Homo sapiens: one gene and its partners. The protein of the gene in region 1 interacts with the protein of each later gene in a pairwise test. Each region holds a gene or a part of one and is shown on either strand. Other genes may lie near its edges.

Region 1 (7,030 bases):
TCTCAGCAGCAGCGTGCGTCCTTACACGGCAGCCTGTCCTTTTCAAATCAGACCACTGCTTTCCTTTAACTAATGCTGGATCCCCTAGTTCCGCCTTTGGAAATAACGTGGAAATGATTCTCACAATACGATTTGCATTTCCTAAACCAGCTGTCCCCAGCATGGTCTACATTTCCCGAGGAAGTGCTTTCCAGACCGACTCCTCTGTAGAGCCTGGTGGGTGAGGATAGGCTTGGCTGCACACAGCATATGTGTAAGCTACAGAGACTTGTTTCTTTCTTGCACAGGTAACCCAGAGGCAGAGGTTCCAGGCTCAGGTCATTGGCATGTTTTTTGTTTCATGAGGAAGCAGAGGAGCCCCATCTCCCATCTTAATCTCTGCCACCAACTAGGGTGCTGCCCTTGTCCCTGTGACACCTGTACCTGCCACATTCACCTTTGCACTGAGCTTAGTCTTGTGACCACATCTCACCAGACGGGAACTGGGAGGTGTAGTCTCTTCGGGCCTGTGTGTGCCAGCTCGATGCAGTGTCATTCCCATGGAAGGAGGGAGCAAACCCTGCCACAAGCATCCAGAGCTGTCTTCAGATGCGCTCTTGGGCCTGAATCCAGCGTCCCAGGTCTTCCGACCAGAGACGACTGAGGAGGTCGGGCGGCCGCCTCCCTGGATCTGACTGCACATCCATCACTGCAACCTACGACAAAGCTCCTGGGCCACAACCGGCTGGCAGTGAGAGAATAACTGCTAAAAACGTTTCAGGGAGCTGAGTCCAATTTCTTCCCCAACCACAAGACCTGATTGCAGTGGTCCATATAACTATCACCACAGCTCCCTCAAATCAACTCTGCCTTATTATCTTTTTTTTTTTTTTTTTTAAATCCGGGGACCAGGCACGGTGGCTCACGCCTGTAATCCCAGCACTTTGGGAGGCTGATGTGGGCGGATCGTGAGGTCAGGAGTTCAAGACCAGCCTGGCCAACATGGTGAAACCCTGTCTCTACTAAAGATACAAAAAATTAGCTGGGCGTGGTGGTGCATGCCTGTAATCCCAGCTACTCAGGAGGCTGAGGCAGGAGAATTGCTTGAACCCGAGAGGCAGAGGTTGCAGTGAGCCAAGATTACACCATTGCACTGCAGCCTGGGCAATGGCGCAAGACTCTGTCTCAAAAAAATACAAACAAAATTAGCCAGACGTGGTAGTGGGCGCCTGTAGTCCCATCTACTTGGGAGGCTGAGGCATGAGAATCACTTGAACCTGGGAGGCGGAGGTTGCAGTGAGCTGAGATAGCGCCACTGCACTAATCCAGCCTGGGTGACAGAGGGAAACTCTGTCTCAAAAAAAAAAAGATTTTAAAGGCTGAGCTGCCCCCCACCTCTGCTCTCAGAGGTGCCCTGCCCCCACCAGCCATCTCACACCCCACGCTGGGCTCTCATTGGCCACTGACATCTTGTCTTTTTGGCGTCTGCAGCCCCCACGCTGGCAGGTGTAGTCCCTGCGCCTCTTGTCCTCTTGGTCAAGTGAATGACGCATGCAACCTGCAGAGTCCCCAGGACAGAGCAGCCAAGGGACTTGGCCTCAGTCCAAGGGGAAGGTGCCTTGCGGGGGGCCGCTGGAGCAGCGTGTTCCCTGATAGTTGGCGCTGGTTGACAACAGAGAACAGGGTGACCATCGCCTAGAGACAGTCAGGATTCCTGCGGCCACACAGTGCCGGGCACAGACTTTCCAACAACCCTTGGGCCCTTTGCCTCCAATTCCTAGATCTGGTGACTCACCCACCTTCTGGGTCTATAACATTTCTACCCCACTGATAGAGCTGTCACGTGACAGGCAAATCTCTGTCCTTGGTGTCTTTTAGCAAACTGAATGCTCAGGGCACTTGGGCCTTTTGCAGACATTTGTGAGTCTGCCTAACAGCCTTGCTGCTTTCTGTCTGCCTTGTGGCTCTCATCCCTCTTTCCAGCACTTTCTGACCTCCCCTTTGTTATTATTATGATGATTATTTTTTGAGACAGTGTCTTGCTCTGTCACCCAGGTTGGAATGCAGTGGTGTAATCAAAGCTCACTGCAGCCTCAACTTCCTGGGCTTAAGCAATCCTCCCACCTTAGCGTCCCAAGTAACTGAGACTATAGGCACGTGCCACCATGCTCTGCTAATTTTTTATTTTTTAACTTTTTGAAGAGATAGGGTCTTGCTTTGTTGCCCAGGGTGGTCTCGAACTCCTGGCTGAGCTGTCCTCCTGCCTGGGCCTCCCCTTTTTTAAATGCCCCTTGTCAGCCACAGGCAGCTGGCTCCATTATGAAGCCTCTGTTTGTCACCAAAGCCCAACGCCATGGCTCCCTCCCTACCTTGAGGCCTCCTAAAGCCTTGGGTCCCTCCGCCCCACCCCTGCCCCAGGAAGTGGGCTCCACCCTGAGACCCCTTCTCGGCGTTGCAGGTTTATCAGTAAAGAGATCCTGACCATCCGGGAGGCCGTATGGCTCACGGACAACACTTACAAGTACGAGGACCTGGTGAGAATGATGGGCGAGATCGTCTCCGCCTTGGAAGGGAAGATTCGAGTAAGCAGCGGTTCCATTTTCCTTATTAATCTTCGTTGTCGCTGTGCTGGAGGGTGGGGGTGGGCATTCAGCTTTCCTGCTGTGGGAGGGCCTCATGGACTCAGAGAGCAGCTGTCTCTGCTGTGCCCAAAGCCATGGAGCAGGAGGCCACGGTTGCACCACGTCGCCATCTGCGCTGGTGCGCTACGCGTGCAGCATCGGCGTGAACATCATCCGGGCCAGACCCTGCGCTGGGCCTGCATGCGGCACTGCACCAAGGAGCCCCCGAGCGCTGAGAGCCCACACCCCGTCCCGGCTGTCTAGGTCCCCACTGTGGTGGATTACAAGGAGGTCCTGCTGACGCTAGTCCCTGTGGAGCTGAGAACCCAGCACCTGTGCAGCTTCCTCTGCGAGCTCTCCCTGCTGCACACCAGCCTGTCCGCCTACGCCCCAGCCCGCCTGGCTGCCGCAGCCCTGCTCCTGGCCAGACTGACGCACGGGCAGAGTAAGGAGTGGCCCTTCCCAGGGATGCCTGTGTCGGGGAAGGTGCTGACATAGGAGGAGGCTGTGGGGAGGAAAAGAGTCCAGCATCCATTTGTCCTGGTTACTTCTTGGGGGGTGAGATACAGCACGGCTCCTACCTTCAGTGATGTCCCAGATTTCTGACCATGAGCCTGCACGCCCTATGTATGGGTTTTTTTCAAAACTATTTTAAAAGGATTGCAACCCTGAGCTCCAAGAAACTCCACAGCAGAGCCCACAGAGCTATAGAGCGGGAGTGTTCAGGCGGCTGTCACCACAGCCCCTCCGTCCCCTCCATCCCCTCCGTCCCCTCCATCCCCTCCACCCCTGGCCTGCTTTCCTCCCCAGCACAGCCCTGGACCACTCAGCTGTGGGACCTCACCGGATTCTCCTATGAAGACCTCATTCCCTGCGTCTTGAGCCTCCATAAGAAGTGGTGAGTTTTGGCCGGGCGCAGAGGCTCATGCCTGTAACCCCAGCACTTTGGGAGGCCGAGGCGGGCAGATCATTTGAGGTCAGGAGTTTGAGACCAGCCTGGCCAACATGGTGAAACCCCACCTCTACTAAAAATACAAAAATTAGCCAGGCGTGGTGGTGCACGCCTATAATTCCAGCTACTCAGGAGGCTGAGGCAGGAGAATCGCTTGAACCCAGGAAGCAGAGGTTGCAGTGAGTTGATATCACGTCACTGGACTCCAGCCTGGGTGACAGAGCAAGACTCTGTCTCTAAAAACAACTGGCCAGGCATGGTGGCTCACACCTGTAATCCCAGCACTTTGGGAGGCCAAAGCGGGCGGATCACCGAGGTCAGGAGTTCAAGACCAACCTGGTCAACGTGGCAAAACCCTGTCTCTACTAAAAAAAAAAAAAAAAAAAAAAAAATTAGCTGGGCGTGGTGGCATGCGCCTGCAATCCCAGCTACTCAGGAGGCTGAGACAGGAGAATCACTTGAACCCGGGAGGCAGAGGTTGCGGTGAGCCGAGATTGCGCCATTGCACTCCAGCCCAGGCAACGAGTGAAACTCCATCTCAAAAAAAAAAAAAAAAGTTCCAGTAGTTTCTTATCTCACACATTTTTCACATTGAGAGCAGCTGCTCCCAACCCAAGCTCATTGCACAGGCAGCAGAACATACTAGAAAAAATGAGGGCATCTCCCTGACCCGTGGTAACTTGTGCGTGTTGTCAAGTTGTCATCTAGCTCAGGCACTGGCACACCGTGGCCCTCAGGCGGCATCTGGCTGCTTTTGCGAATGGGGTTTTCTTGGCAGCAGCCACCCTCACTGGTTTCCACATTGTCTGCTGCTGCTTTTGCTCTGGCGGTGGCTGAGCTCATAGTGCAGCGGACACCACGTGGCCCCCAGTCAGGAAAATACTCCCCTTCCCTTGAGAGAACAGCTTCTGCCCTGATGCAGCTGCTGGGATAGAGCTATCCTCTGTCTCACTGAGAAGATGGAGACTGCGGGTGGGTCCCTTGCGCCGTCGTGCCCGGATGTGACCCCCTGTCTGCCCCAGCCCCACTGGGCTTCCCTCCACCTGCCCCGGCCCCTCCGCCCTTCTCTCTGGTGAGCCTGGCCCGGCCCTCGCCACATCTAAGCCCCTTCACTCGCCCTGGCAGCTTCCCTTCAGCCCACGTTGGTTTGTTCCATGCAGTTCATGAAGTCCCTACCGTGGTCCAGGCGCTGGGGGAGAGGGCAGGACAGAGAGTTCAGAGGTCAGGTCGTGACGAGAGAAACAGCAGGCAGGCGCGCGGGGCAGGTGGCGCGGGCGGGGGCGACTCCCTTCAGGGAGCGTAGCCGGGGTCACCTGGGCATCTGAGTCCAGGGCAAAGGGGGCAGCCATGCCAGGGCCCAGTGCAGACCAGTGGGGCTGGGGGCCATGAGTGGAGTCATGGCAGTGAGGGGTGAGGGGGACAAGCACGGGGCTGAATTTGTACCCGGCCAGCCATCTCCGTCTCCCCTCCTCAGCTGTGCTCACAGACTTGCTCCTCCCACCTCTCGGCACCCCCACTCCCTGGTCTCCCACTTCCCCGCTTCTGCCATGGCTTCCTTTTCCTCAGCCAAATCCAGCAGACTCAGCGGTGTGGGCTTTTTTTTCCTTTTTTGAGTTGGGGGCCCAGGCTGGAGTGCAGTGGCACCATCCTAGCTCACTGCAGCCCTGACCTCCCGGGCTCAAGGGATTCTTTTGTGTCAGCCTCCCGAGTAGCAGAAACCACAGGCACCAGCACAGCAGGCCTGGGTGCTTTTCTCCAGCCAGCATTACGCTGACCCTCCCTCCCTCGGGGGCTTCGGCTTCCTGCCCTAGGCCATGCGGCCTAGGTGTTGGTCTCCCTTCCCACCCACCCCAAGGGGCCCCGGAATTCTGGCTTTCTGCCACTCCTCAGACTCCTTCCTGGGAGACTTCACCACTTCCAGAATTCAGGCCACATCTCAACCTTGACCTGCCACCCCCCTGCCAGCGTGACTCAGCCAACGGCCTGTTGCCTGTTCTGGCCCTGGTGGGTCGTGGTGCATGAAGCCCTGTGTGCCCAGCTGAGGCCTCCACCAGCCGCTGCTGCTTCTCCATCCCTGCATCCTCGTCAGTGCAGTTTCCTCGTGCGCTCACAGCTTGGGGACTGGAGCTATCCGTGGCGGCTGCCCGGCCTCCTGGAACACTGTGGCAGCCGCCCCGCACATGTCCCGTGTACGTCACCCAGGGCCTCGCTGTCCGGCTTCCAGGATGAGATCAGAACTCCCTGGGGGTCTCGATGCCCTTGAGCAGCCCCTTCTGTGGCCCATCTGCTTTTTCTCCCACCATGCTGTGCTCCAGCCACAGGGGACCTGGTGGCATCTCCCGGGCTTTGGCATGTGCTGCTGCTCATGCTGCTTTCTCCTGCAGTGCCCGGACCCTGTGCCTTCTGGGCAAGGAACGAGGCTGACAGTAGAAGGGTTCGCATGGGTCTCGTCCCACCCACCTTTGCTTATGGGGAGCACAGATCGTCCCAACCCTGGCCACCAAAAGCTGTTTCTGGGCTGCGTTTATTCTCTTCCTCCTGAAGAAGTTAATTTTTTTTCCAAACAAGATAAATTAGAAACGTTATTTAGAAACTACACTTCCTTTGATTGTGTGATTTAACGGGCTTTTATTCACACAGTTGTGCTTGTCATCACAACAATCAAATTGATGACATTTTCACTTTCCCCAAAGGGACAACACACCCCTCAGCTGTCACCCTCCCGTTCCCCCCAACTTCCTCAGCGCTAGATGACCCCCAGTAGTCTACTTTCTGTCCATGGATGTTTCCCATTCTGTACATTCCATATAAATGGCGTCATCGGACAAGTGGCCTTCTGTGTCTAGGTGATTTCCCTCGCGGTAACGTTTGCTGGGTTTGTCCATGTGGTGTGTGTCCCTGCTTTGTTCTTTTTCATGGCTGAATAATATTCCCCTGCATGGACCACATGTGTTTATCCATCCCGCAGCTGGTGGACATTTTGCCTATTGTGAACAGTCCTGCCATGAACATTCTAGTACAGGTTTCTGTGTGGACATAGTTTTTCCTTTTTCCTGGGTCTTTACCTAGAGAGGAATTGCTAGGTCCTGTGGTGACTGAGTTTAACCATTCGGGGAACTGCCAGGTCAGATTCCAGAGTGACTGCACCATTTTGCATTCTCATTGCTCACTTCAGTGAACTGAAGCTAAAAATGGGGTGGGGGTGCCTCACATGTCCACTCCACGTGACTCTGTTTCCAGCTTCCATGATGACGCCCCCAAGGACTACAGGCAAGTCTCTCTGACCGCCGTGAAGCAGCGGTTTGAGGACAAGCGCTATGGAGAAATCAGCCAGGAAGAGGTGCCTCCCTCCCGCCACCTGGGCGTCTCATGGGGTGCTGGGGTGTGGGCGGGCCTCACCCTCGGGGCCTCTGCACCCCCTAACTCTAGCTTCCCCTCAGGTGCTGAGCTACAGCCAGTTGTGTGCTGCATTAGGAGT
Region 2 (7,030 bases), on another chromosome or scaffold:
TTTTTTCTCCCAAGCCCAACCCCCAAACCTCTGGTTCCAATCCCTGGTAGCTCCCTGAGAGACAGGCATGACCACTGATTTCCACAACCCAGGGAAGCACCCTCATAGACTATTTTTTGAATGACCTTGTTCTGGAGTTTCACCCACAGACTGACACTGGGGGGCTGCTCTGTTCCCAGAGGCAGGGGAATGTTTGAAGACCCCACCAGACCTGGGAAGCAGCAACAGCTGGGGCAGGAGCTGAAGGAGCTGATGAACACGGAGCAGGCCTTGGACCAGCTCATCCAGAGCTGCTCTCTGAGCTTCAAGCACCTGACTGAGGACAAGGCCAACAAGAGATATCCTCCTTGGTTGGGGGAAGGTGTCAGGGAGCAGGAACCTGTTGCATGTTTATATCTATCCTGAGTTGATTCAGTAACTTACCCTAAGGGTCTGGCATCTGTTTCTTCCTTCCTGGGTGGCTTTTCTTCTCAAGTCTATTTTTAAAATTATTTATTTATTTTTTTTAGAGACAAGGACTCATTCCGTCATCCAGGCTGTAGTACAATGGCATGATCATAGCTCGCTATAGCCTCGCCCTCCTGGGTTCAAGTGATCCTCCCACCGCAGCCTCCTGAATAGCTGGAACTACAGTCATGTGCCACCATGCCTGGCTAATTCTTTATTTTTTGTATAGACAGGGTCTCGCTTTGTTGCCCAGGCTGGTCTCTAACTCTTGGCTTCAGTCGATCCTCCTGCCTCAGTCTCCCAAAGTGCTGAGATTACAGGCATGAGTCACTGTGCCTGGCCTCAAGTTTATTAAAGGTATTTTTTCATTATTGAAAATAAGCCAAGTAAATTTCTTTAAATCTGGAAAACGGAGAAAAAGAATGATGAGCTGCCACCTTAACATAGCCATTGTTCTTGAACTGCACACAGAATGTGTTTTATTTCAATATAGTTGTAATGTAGTTGTGTGCCTGCTGAACATAGCTTTTTTTTTTTTTTTTTTTTTTTTTTTTTTTTTTGAGACAGAGTCTCACTCTTGCCCAGGATGGAGTGCAGTGGCACAATCTCGGCTCGCTGCAACCTCCACCTCCTGGGTTCTAGTGACTCTCCTGCCTCAGCCTCCTAAGTAGCTGGGATTACAGGTGCCCGCCACCATGCCTGGCTAATTTTTTTTTTTTTTTTTTGAGATGGAGTCTTACTATTGCTGCCCAGGCTGGAGTGCAGTGCCATGATCTTGGCTCACTGCAACCTCTGCCCCCTGGGTTCAAGCGATTCTCCTGCCTCAGCCTTCCAAGTAGCTGAGATTACAGGCGCCTGCCACCACACCCGGCTAATTTTTGTATTTTATGTAGAGACGGGGTTTCACCATGTTGGTCAGGCTGGTCTCGAACTCCTGACCTCAGGTGATCCACCCACCTCAGCCTTCGTAAGTGCTAGGGTTACAGGAGTGAGATACCGCACCCGGCCTTCACACCCAGCTGATTTTTGTATTTTTAGTGGAGATGGAGTTTCACCATGTTGGCCAGGCTGGTCTTGAATTCCTGACCTCAAGTTATCCACCCGCCTCAGCCTCCCAAAGTGCTAGGATTACAGGCATGAGCCGCCGCGTTCGGCCGAATATCTTTATACATAGAATGCTTTCCCATATTTTTACTTGTTTCCTAGGTCAGATCCCTAGGATTGAAATGATGAGGTCAAAGAGCATGGACTTTGCTAAGGCTCTTTCATACATTTTCCAAAATCATTTCATATCTAATTGGTTTTGGATCTGACCTTGTATTTTTGGAAGGATGCTAGGCATTGTGAGAAATATAAAGAAATAAAACACATCTTCCTGCCTTCTCAGAGCTAATGATCTAGTTTGAGAGATGAAGCCTTTACATAAGGCAACATTTTTTATGATTTATAATGTAAGGCAACATTTTTTATGATTTATATTCCCATTTGCTTTCCAAAGGGATCTAAGGTAGCTTATGAGATTAACAGGTTACAGATTGTATTATTTCTAAGTTGTACAAGGAGTGAGAAAGTAATGTTCAGAGGCTTAGGAGAGGTGGGTGAAGGTGCTCCCTGGCAGGTTTGGGGTTTGAATTTTGACCAGACAGTCACTTTTCTTGACTCTCCTGCCCTACGCTGGCCTATGTGACTTACCAGGATATCCGTGCTGTTGGCAACTTTAAGGAGCAGACAGTGATTGCCGTCAAGGCCCCTCCGCAGACGAGACTGGAAGTGCCCGACAGGACTGAGGTGAGAGGGGAAATATTTGGTGGAGAGCAGGGTTGAGACCCTGCCAGGGAGCGTTCCAGGCGGCTCTGCAGACTCTGTCCCTGGCACTGCCTAGCCCCATGCTTTGCAGGCCCATTGTGGTGTCCATGGCAATATTGGTGGCCTTCAAGCTTGGGCAGAAATGGCAGAAGCTGGAAAGGGCAACGGAGACTGAGTAGTGGCCTGAGAAAATCTCTGTTCCTGGTTTCTTTCTGCATCCCACCAGCCCTGGGTTCCTGCGCACATGCACACTCATGCCCACGTATGACGGTGTCAATACTCATGAAAATCCTTTCATGCTGACCGTGCTTTCCCAGGTTAAAGACCAAAATTCCTGACACTCCCTATGAGGCTTCGGTGCTCTGAGACCCCAGCTGACGTTGCCAACCTCCTTTTCCCCGCTGCCCCATCTGTCTTTGTTTTGGCCACACTGACCTGTCTGCAGTTTCCCCATTGCACTAAGCTCATTCCTAGTATGAGATCTTCTGTTTTGTTTGATTTATTTATTTATTTATTTATTTATTTTTGAGACAGAGTCTCACTCTGTTGCCCAGGCTGGAGTGCAGTGACACAATCTTGGCTGACTGCAATCTCCGCCTCCTGGGTTGAAGCGATTCTCCTGCCTCAGCCTCCCAAGTAGCTGAGATTACAGATGCCCGCCACTACTCCCGGCTAAGTTTTGTATTTTTTTTTTAGTAGAGATGGGGTTTCACCATGTTGGTCAGGCTGGTCTTGAACTCCTGACCTCATGATCCACCTGCCTCGGCCTCCCAAAGTGCTGGGATTACAGGCATGAGCCACCACACTCAACCTATTTGATTTTTTTTAAGACAGCGTCTTGCTCTGTCACCCAGGCTGGAGTGCAGTGGCATGATCTCAGCTCACTGCAACCTCTGCCTCCCGGGTTCAAGCCATCCTCCCACCTCACCCTCCTGAGTAGCTGGGACCACAGGTGCATGCCACCATGCCTAGCACATTTTTTGTTTTTTTTGTAGAGACGAGGTTTTGCCACGTTGTCCAGGCTGGTCTTGAACTTCGGCATAGAAGTGATTTGCCCGCCTTGGCCTCCCAAAGTGCTGGGATTATAGGCGTGAACCACCGCACCTAGCCGTGCAAGACCCTCATACATGCTCTTCCCCTCGAGCTGAAATGTTCTTCCCTCTCTGCCTGATTTACCGCTATTCATCCTACAGGTCTCAACTCAAATGTCACTTCCTCAAGGAAGCCTTCTCTGATTACCTCCAGACTTCATAAACACCTGTGCTTTTCCGCTGCCTTTAATTTAATCTCCATTTGCTGAGGTATATTTGGCATGATTACACGATTGCATTCTGCTTCATCTATTAGGGTGTAAGCTTCACAAGAGAATGTTCTACTCACCTTGTATCCCTTGCCCAGAGCCTGGCATATTATAAGGACTCAAGAAATAATTTATTTAAAGGAAGAACTGGGGCTGCAGAGACAATTAAGGTCCTGCCCCCACCCTTGGAGGAGTTCACGACTTAGTGGGAAAAAGACGCTGTCATTTATAGACTGAAGATGTGCTTTGCAAGCATAGAGAAAGGGTAGTTAGAGGAGGTATCCCAGGTGGGGACAGTTAAACTAGGTCTTAAAGAATGAATAGGGTTTTTGCTAGGTGCAGTTCTGTGTGAGTACAGGCATGGAGACCTGGACATGTGCCTGGATGGCATGCATGTCATCAGTTGTGGCTTAAGTTGCGGTTATGTGGTAGGGAAGGGACAGGGTGGGAAGACCAAATACTAGGACTCTTGGTTACAGGTAACAGAAAGCCAAGTCCAACTGGCTTCAGCGGGAGGTATGGGTAGGGGTGGTGGGAACCAAATGACAAGTCCTGGGGGAGATTCAGAGATTGCTGGCAAGGTTGGATGTAGATGCTCAAACTATGACTTCAGGTCTGTCTCACGCTTTTCATCTCTCTGCTTTTCTCTGTGCTGACTCCATTCCCAGGTGGGCTCTCTCCTTGTGGTGGTAGAGGTAGCTTTTATGATACCAGCTCAGCAACCCCAGTGGGAAGGGGGCTTCCATTTCCCACAAGTCCAGCAAAAGTCCTGGGCCTAGTGCTGGTTGGATCCACCTGAGCCATGGGCCATCCTGAACCAATCATGTCACACTAACTTTCCTGGCTGCGTCACAAGCTCACCCACTGGCATTGGGGAAGGGTGCTGCCCCCCCCCCCCCGCCCCAAAACTAGATGACCTGAGAGTGGGGGGAAGAGTGATTTCCCACAGGAAAATCAAGGTGTTCCCCCTAAAAGAAGTGGGCTTCAGGGCCAGACAGCAGAAACAGCGGAAGTCCACCTTAGTTAGGCCAGATGGAGTTGGTCTCAGTGCCAGCCCAGGGTTTGAGCTTGCACCCATGGATGGCAGCAGCCACGTGCGTCTGTCCATACACACTAAGTGTAAGTGTCCAGCTGCCCAGAGCAATGACCTGGCTTCTCTTCCTCCTCCAGGACAACCTGCAGATATATCTCAAGAGCACCCAAGGGCCCATCGAAGTCTACCTGTGCCCAGAGGAGGTGCAGGAGCCGGACAGTCCTTCCGAGGAGCCTCTCCCCTCTACCTCCACCCTCTGCCCCAGCCCTGACTCTGCCCAGCCCAGCAGCAGCACCGACCCTAGCATCATGGAGCCCACAGCATCCTCAGGTAGGTCCCTTGTCCAGAGGGACAGGAGGTGGGGGGAGAGACCGGCCTTAGTTTTCTCTTCTATATCAATGTTTGTTGAAAACCTCCTGTTTTATCCAGCAGCTGGGGATGTAGTCATCCTACCCCACACATGTGCATTGTACTTAATGCTTTATAAAGCCTCACTAGGAAGGCTGGTGCTGCTCCAGGGCAGAGGAAGGCCTGGATTTGAATCCCAGCCCATCCACTTACCAGCTATGTGACCTTAGACAAGTTACTTAACCTCTCTTGGCCTCAATTTTTCTCATCTGTGAGTTGGGCGCAGTAATTAATACTGTCTAACTCATAGGTTGTTGTGAGATTATATAGCTCACGCCTATAATCCCAGCAGTTTGGGAGACTGAGGCAGGAGAATCATTTGAGACCAGGAGTTCAAGAGCAGCCCGGGCAACATAGGGATACCCTGTCTCTATAAAAAAATTTACAAATTAGCCGAGTGTGGTGGCACACGCCTGTAGTCCAGCTACTCGGGAAGCTGAGGTGGGAGGAACACTTGAGCCATGGAGGTTGAGGCTACAGTGAGCTCTGATCATGCCACTGCACTCCAGCGTGGGCAACAGAGGGAGACCCTGTCTCAAAAATAAAAATAAGAATAAAATTTTAAAAAATAGGCCAGGCGCTGTGGTCCCCACCTATAATCCCAGCACTCTGGGAAGCTGAGGTGGGAGGATCACTTGAGCCCAGGAGTTCAAGACCAGCCTGGGCAACATAATGAGACTCCATCTCTAATAAAAATAAAATAATAAAATTTGCCCATTAAAAAAAAAATAAGACATAGAGGTGATGTGTCTTACCTAAGGTCTCCCAGCTGGGAGGCAACAGAGCTGTGTCTTGAACCTTGGTCTACATACTCCCAGCCCAGTGCTCTCTCCACAAGGCATAGATCAAATCGAAGAAGGGGCTTCTGGCTGGGAGGTGGACGGTATGGTTAAGAGCTGGCTACCCCTGATGGAAGGTAGTACAGGTAAGTTGCCAGGGAGCAAAGTTCCTGAGAGCTTCCCAAGGAGGGTGGGAGTCCAGAAGGAGTACAAATGGAAGCCTGTAAAGGCCCCTCTCCAGAACAGTTTTTGCCTTTTCCTGGATCACACATCCGGCTAGACTGGCAGGATTCTTCAAGGCTATGTAGGCCAGTGTTCCACTTTTTGTCTTCTTAGCAGCAGAATTCTCTTAAGTAGAACCCTAGCGTTTAGACCAAGGTAGAGGTAGAGCTGGGCTGATGGAAGAGGCTTGCTGGAAGGGCTCTGCAGTACACTGGTTGTGTCCATTTCTCTAACTCAGAGGTTAATAAACTATTGCCTGCAGGTCAAATCTGACCTGCTTTTAATGACCCATGAGCTAAGAATGGTTTTACATTTTTAAAGAGTTGTGGGAGAAAGAAAAAGAAGGCAACTATGTGACAGAGACCACAAGTGTCCCACAAAGCCTAAAATACTCTCCAGCTTTTTTTTTTTTTTTTTTTTTTGAGACAGTCTCGCTCCGTCACCAGGCTGGAGTGCAATGGTATGATCTTGGCTCACAGCAACCTCTGCCTCCTGGGTTCAATCAATTCTCCTGCCTCAGCCTCCCAAGTAGCTGGGATTACAGGTGCCCGCCATCACACCCAGCTAATTTTTTTTTTTTTTGTATTTTTAGTAGAGACAGGGTTTCCCCATGTTGGCCAGCCTGGTCTTGAACCCTTGACCTCAGGTGATCCACCTGCCTTGGCTTCCCAAAGTGCTGGGATTACAGGCTCCAGCTCTTTATAGAAGTTTGCTGTCCCCAACTAACTCAACCCTTCTTTTAACACATGAATGAACACAGGCCCAGAGAGGGCAAGTGGCTTCCCTAAGGTCACACAGCAAGTTGATGGCAGAGCTGGGACCAGAGCCCAGCCTCCCAACTCTTCTCTAATGATCTCTCCTGTGTCTGTCAGGCCTCATCAGGGACCAGAGCTTCTCCCTGTGCTAGCCATCTGTCCCTTGGGACACCTCCCCAGTGCCTATCTCCCATCCCAGACCTCTGCCCCACCCTCTGGTCCATCCTCCTCCTGCTGTGCCTCCTCACTCAAGTGTCAGCATGCGCATAGCCCTCCGAAG
Region 3 (5,644 bases), on another chromosome or scaffold:
ACGGCATATATGTATCATATCCAGTGATCAGATGAGGAAGATGAGGCTCGGGGAGGATAGGTTACTCCCCCAGTTCTGTTTTTGTGGGATAAATTGCTTCCCTGTGTTATCTTCAAATATTTTTTTGCTTGTTCTGAGAGGAAAGAATCTTGGAGTGATTTGCTTGATTTTGCTTTTAAAAGGCATGTGTCTCAAACTTGTTGTAGGTGGAAAGTGAGACCAACGTCCTGCAGGACGGCTCCCTCATTGACCTGTGTGGGGCCACTCTCCTCTGGAGAACAGCAGATGGGCTTTTTCATACTCCAACTCAGAAGCACATAGAAGCCCTCCGGCAGGAGATTAACGCCGCCCGGCCTCAGTGTCCTGTGGGGCTCAACACCCTGGCCTTCCCCAGCATCAACAGGAAAGAGGTGGTGGAGGAGAAGCAGCCCTGGGCATATCTCAGTTGTGGCCACGTGCACGGGTACCACAACTGGGGCCATCGGAGTGACACGGAGGCCAACGAGAGGGAGTGTCCCATGTGCAGGACTGTGGGCCCCTATGTGCCTCTCTGGCTTGGCTGTGAGGCAGGATTTTATGTAGACGCAGGACCGCCAACTCATGCTTTCACTCCCTGTGGACACGTGTGCTCGGAGAAGTCTGCAAAATACTGGTCTCAGATCCCGTTGCCTCATGGAACTCATGCATTTCACGCTGCTTGCCCTTTCTGTGCTACACAGCTGGTTGGGGAGCAAAACTGCATCAAATTAATTTTCCAAGGTCCAATTGACTGACGCCCTTGACAGCCATCTACGACTTTATTAACAGGTTACTGTGAAGATTTTGCCACTAACTCTAGATTTTACCTTTTTGTAATGCTGTTTATCAGAGGAGGGTGACAGGGGCTGGAAATAAAGAGAGGGGACATGGTGATGAAACATGGCAGGAGTGTAACAGATACCAGTGGTGTGTTGCATGCTCAAAACAGCAGCGTCGTCATTGAAGTCTGCTTGATTAAACCATAATATCTTTGTAATAATTGGATTTAAAATGCTATGCTTCTATTTTTAACCTTGGGTTTTTAACCAAGTTTTTTTTTTTTTGTAATCTTGGACAAGACTTTAAATCATATTTTACAGATGTAGAAGAAATTTATTCAAAAGTGTGGGCTCATGAAGTTCACTTCAGTGCAGTGTGGTGTAGGTGTTACGCGAAGGGCGCACAGTGTCTAGAAATACTTGATCGTGGCTCAAACCTGACCAGACAGCAGAGGGGCGGCTCTGTACAGTGTGACTGGTGGACAGATGGCCTTAGGCACAGGTGGTTTTGAAATCTGGGGCTTTTTCTGATTTATTTTTCTGACTTGTTGGGGGAGAGAATATTCATAACTTGTGGGCTTTTTTTTTTTTTAACTTCAGTGGAATTTACTTTAGATATTCATTCATCAAATACATGGGACTTCACAAACAATTTTCCATAACTTTTTAGCCTGTCTTTTGTTATTTCTGCCTAATATGATTTGCCCCGATACTCATCTTGCACGGCCAGAACTGTTTGGTTGATTAAAATACATCAGCTCTTAAAAACTCATTAACTGAGGGTAATTACAGTAGTAGACATGGTCTGGGTACTATACTACCATGTTTATTTGCTGACTGAATTAAGATTTAAGAATGATTAAAAATAAGCTTTTACTTTTTAAAACCACTTGAGGTTTCATAAAGCTTGGGGTTTTTTTTTTTCCTTTGTTAAGAAAGCCAACCAATCACAATGATATAGTCATTGTTGTGCACTCCCTTTTCACCATCTGTCACCTTCCCTTGCAGCTTAAGGAGCCCAGTAAGTTTTGAAAATGTTTGCGAATCAAACTAAATTTAAGTGGGATGATTAGATATACACAACACCAAGTGGTACATCTGCAGAGATAATTCAAAATTCCTGCTTTTGAGAGAGCAAATGAGTGTTGCTGAGGAATAATTAAATGAGAATTTCATAGGAGCTCCACCATTCCTGTTACTTTCATTTCATTTTGATTAATAATTCTTGGATGCTTGGCATCGATCGTATCACTGCTCCTAGAAGGTAAAGATCCTTTAGGACATGAGACTGGTAGAAGCTGGCTGAGATAAAATAAGTATTTATTTAAACTAATGTTCTCTTAATTTGACCATTGCAGATTTGGGTGACTTTTTTTTAACCTTTGTACATATACGTAATTTATATGATTCTAATGTACTATATCCATACTTGAATTGGTTTTTTCGTATTTTGCCTACTGGCAAATATTTTGCCTATTTTCAGTCGTTCTAACCTATTTGAATACGCTTTTCCTTAAAGTGATACGATAATATTACTCTTGATTGCTGCTGCTTAATTTGATGTAATATGTTTAAAGTTCAGCCTCTCAGTTTTAATATAGCTTTATTTTTCAGTGGAGATCATTGTTTAGGATGAGACATTTTTGGTTTTGGTTTTGTTTGGGTAAATTTTAAATGGTGTGAAAATCGATGACAACAGTCCTCTTACAGATAGCTTGCTGTATTCTGTATAGCTTACTCTACCTGCAGACAGAAAATGAAAGAAAAAAATGGACTTGCCTAGAATAATATATTGAATGCCTTTTGATTTAGCCAGAGTCTCTGATGATTAGCTTTCACTGATAGAGTATGTCTTTTCAGCCTGTAATTCTTTGGGCCCCAAAGAATGACAAAGGAGGCACTCGTTCTCTTTTCTTGCTGTATGCCTAGAAAGTGGTTGAAGGATTCTTGATGCCCTAAAACCATCTTGTAAGCTAAATGGTCTTGCATCCAGAAAGGCCAGATTTTACCTACCAAGAAAAAAAGATATTTTTCCAGAGAGTTAGGTATATCATAATTTTCCATTTCAAGTCCTGTTTATAAGTCTAGTCATTCTGCAACGTGACATATCCCCCAAAATGAAGTTACCTTCCAAGTTGGACACGTCCCGTAGTTGGGCATATGTCTAACTAAAAGTTTCTGACTTTTAGTAAATTCAGCTTAAATATAAGTTGAAATTTGGGAAATAATTTCCAAGCTCTTGGAAGGGGTAACAGTGAACCGCCCTCCATGGGCTCCACATCTTTTCCTTTGGCTTCCAAAGTCAGGTCCCGCCCACCCTGCCTAAGGAACTGCAGAGAGGTGGCAAATCAGCAAAAAGGACACCAGGCTCTTCTTGGCCACTTGTAGGAAGATCCCTTTACAATTTTGACTAAGGAGATTTTTTTTTTCACAGTTGAGTTAGTTTGTGAAAATAAAGAACTCTGTAGCTCACCAAGGTGGAGAAACGCAATTCAGAAAAGTAATTTCTCCAAGGTCACTTCTTTTTTTATGTCTTGCCATCACTTTAAAGGACTAGCCCCACTCCCCCATGTGTATACACAAGGAAATTGCAGACCAATTAGTTGTCTTGGCCTGACTCTAATGCCTTTTGCAAGTAGCTTTCCAGAAGTAAAAGTCCCAGTGATGTATTCCCATAGAAATATTTTTCAGTTGTTTATGTCGTTTACTACAAAAAAAAAGATTCAGAGTGGATGGAGTACAACTCTGAGTATTTTTCTAGTCCGGAATTTTTTATTAATAATCGGTGCTGCCGGGTCATGCATGCTGCAACTCTCAACATTTCCCTTATTTGGTTCAGCTTTTAGCAAAAAGGGCTACAGTTCACCCTGCAGAGTATTAAGGTTTCTGGATTTTTTTCTCCCAACTGTGGCCCAAAAGAATTAAAATCTGTTAATATAAATAGAGAACATATTTATCATTCCTCGATAGTTAATTATAGACTTTGGTACCTTTGTGCCTCAGGGAAGCCACGTGATATAACTGGTTATAGAATTTCAGGGTTAGGGTTTAAAGAAAGGAGAAAGCCATTGGAAAAATGATGGGCTCCATTAAGGAGACTAATGAATCTGGATGCAGAAATATGTCAGAAACTGGCATAAACATGATTGTAGTAGAATTTATTTTCCAGTACCAATAGGGAAATTATTTTAAGTTATTACATTTACTGTATTGGGAAACTTGAGGAGAACTCTTTAGTTCATAAAGCTTCAATGTCTTTTTTTTTTTTTTCATGGAAAAACTCAAACCTCTGTTATTTGGGAGCTCAGTATTGTGTGGACACTTACGAGAGTTTTCTGCTTAATTGAAGTGTAATATAGGTTGTAGAATTGTTACCTGCAGTTCTATGGTTTTGTTTCACTTCTTTTCTTTTTTAAAGCCATTCTGTTCTTTGGATGTGCTTGAAAGGGTGTGTGATTACACCATTGTTAATGCTGGGTAAAAACTATCTTCTTGCAGCCTTGCCTCATAACAGTGGAATTTCTGATAGACAAACCACAGGACTTTGATTTTAAGCCAAATCCATCTCCATCCCTTTACTGTCAATCTTCTGTCCCAGTAGTTTAGCCTTTGTGGCTTAGGTTATGATGCGCCTCCTTCTGTGCGACCAATGAGACGACTTCAGCATCTTTTTAAAATAATCTAAGCATCATTGAAGCAGTAACACAAAAAAAAGGTTCAGTATTTTCTTTTTAGTATAACTTACATCCTTTCAAATAAGTCTTTGCCCTCATGAAGAATCCCTAGAGGAAGATAAGGAAAATAAGTATTTTCCAGTTTTGCTTGACAGTTTCTAAACAAACAAAAATAAACTCAATGAAAGGAAAGATGTTTCTTTTTAGCTGAGATGACAGATTGCTTCTCTGTATTAAATAGTCTAGAAGTTAAGGGGATGGTCACATTTACCATGTATTGTGTTATTAGCAGTTAAATTTTATGAATATGTTTGTAAAATTGTTGTTTTATATTTCATGTCAAATTGAAAAGTTTATTTCTTCACTATTGTACCTGTGGAAATACAAGCCATTTTACAGGAAAAAATCTTCAAAAACTATTAAATGGATATCAGCCTGTTTGTGAGCCATTGTCTTCAGATTCTGTGGTTGTCACTGAGTTCATTAGGACATTTAGTAGGTTGATACGAGTAGAACTGATTTTTTTCACTTCTCTAACTTCCAAGTTAATCTCCAGCTGTTGAGTTTATTAATTGTTTTATATTCTGCACAATACATATTTAAACCTTGATTCTGAAAATCCCCTACATTTTTTAATTAAAGAAATTTCCTTGGTGCCTATATTACTATTTCTCGTGACATTACATCACTGTCAAATAAAGTTAACTTCCAGGGGAATTTAACCTGACTTGTAGAATTAATGGATTTTTGTCATGATCATTTCAGCCATATTGCTGCTCTTGTGACAGTCTTCATTCACTTTTAACAACATAATAAGGATTGTGTATAAGCCTTCAAGCCTTCCTTGAAGCCTTAAACTAATATATCTATCATAAGAAAATGTATATATTTATGACAAATTTTGTTCTCATCACATTGATATTCAAAGAGTTTTAGTATTATTGAGAGAAACAGATTTTTCATTTCCAGAAAAAAAATGCACATTTATATAGGCTTTTATTTCAGGGGATAAGTGTTCCATACTTTGTCAAATCTAAGATGCCACGAATTGTGAGATGTGTTATAGAAAATCACAACTGGTTATAATTGTAAGTTACATTCCATTGGGCAAGGAATACACCTCACACAGCATACAAACATTAAATCAAAATGGGTCAAAGAGCTACAACTATA

What was found. The genes of interacting proteins can lie anywhere in the genome.
Region 2: the proteins of CCNF (region 1) and E2F2 interact in a two-hybrid assay, tested with the Homo sapiens proteins (one study listed by BioGRID).
Region 3: the proteins of CCNF (region 1) and PELI2 interact in a two-hybrid assay, tested with the Homo sapiens proteins (one study listed by BioGRID).

The regions. Positions count from the first base shown.
Region 1 is NC_000016.10:2,446,418-2,453,447, forward strand, and holds part of CCNF (cyclin-F), read left to right. Parts: intron 1-2,437; coding exon 2,438-2,561; intron 2,562-2,864; coding exon 2,865-3,045; intron 3,046-3,410; coding exon 3,411-3,498; intron 3,499-6,792; coding exon 6,793-6,892; intron 6,893-6,992; coding exon 6,993-7,030. UniProt on the Homo sapiens protein: Substrate recognition component of a SCF (SKP1-CUL1-F-box protein) E3 ubiquitin-protein ligase complex which mediates the ubiquitination and subsequent proteasomal degradation of target proteins.
Region 2 is NC_000001.11:23,514,221-23,521,250, reverse strand, and holds part of E2F2 (transcription factor E2F2), read left to right. Parts: intron 1-179; coding exon 180-338; intron 339-2,120; coding exon 2,121-2,235; intron 2,236-4,723; coding exon 4,724-4,916; intron 4,917-7,030. UniProt on the Homo sapiens protein: Transcription activator that binds DNA cooperatively with DP proteins through the E2 recognition site, 5'-TTTC[CG]CGC-3' found in the promoter region of a number of genes whose products are involved in cell cycle regulation or in DNA replication.
Region 3 is NC_000014.9:56,296,394-56,302,037, forward strand, and holds the end of PELI2 (E3 ubiquitin-protein ligase pellino homolog 2), read left to right. Parts: intron 1-206; coding exon 207-773; 3' UTR 774-5,131; downstream 5,132-5,644. UniProt on the Homo sapiens protein: E3 ubiquitin ligase catalyzing the covalent attachment of ubiquitin moieties onto substrate proteins. Involved in the TLR and IL-1 signaling pathways via interaction with the complex containing IRAK kinases and TRAF6.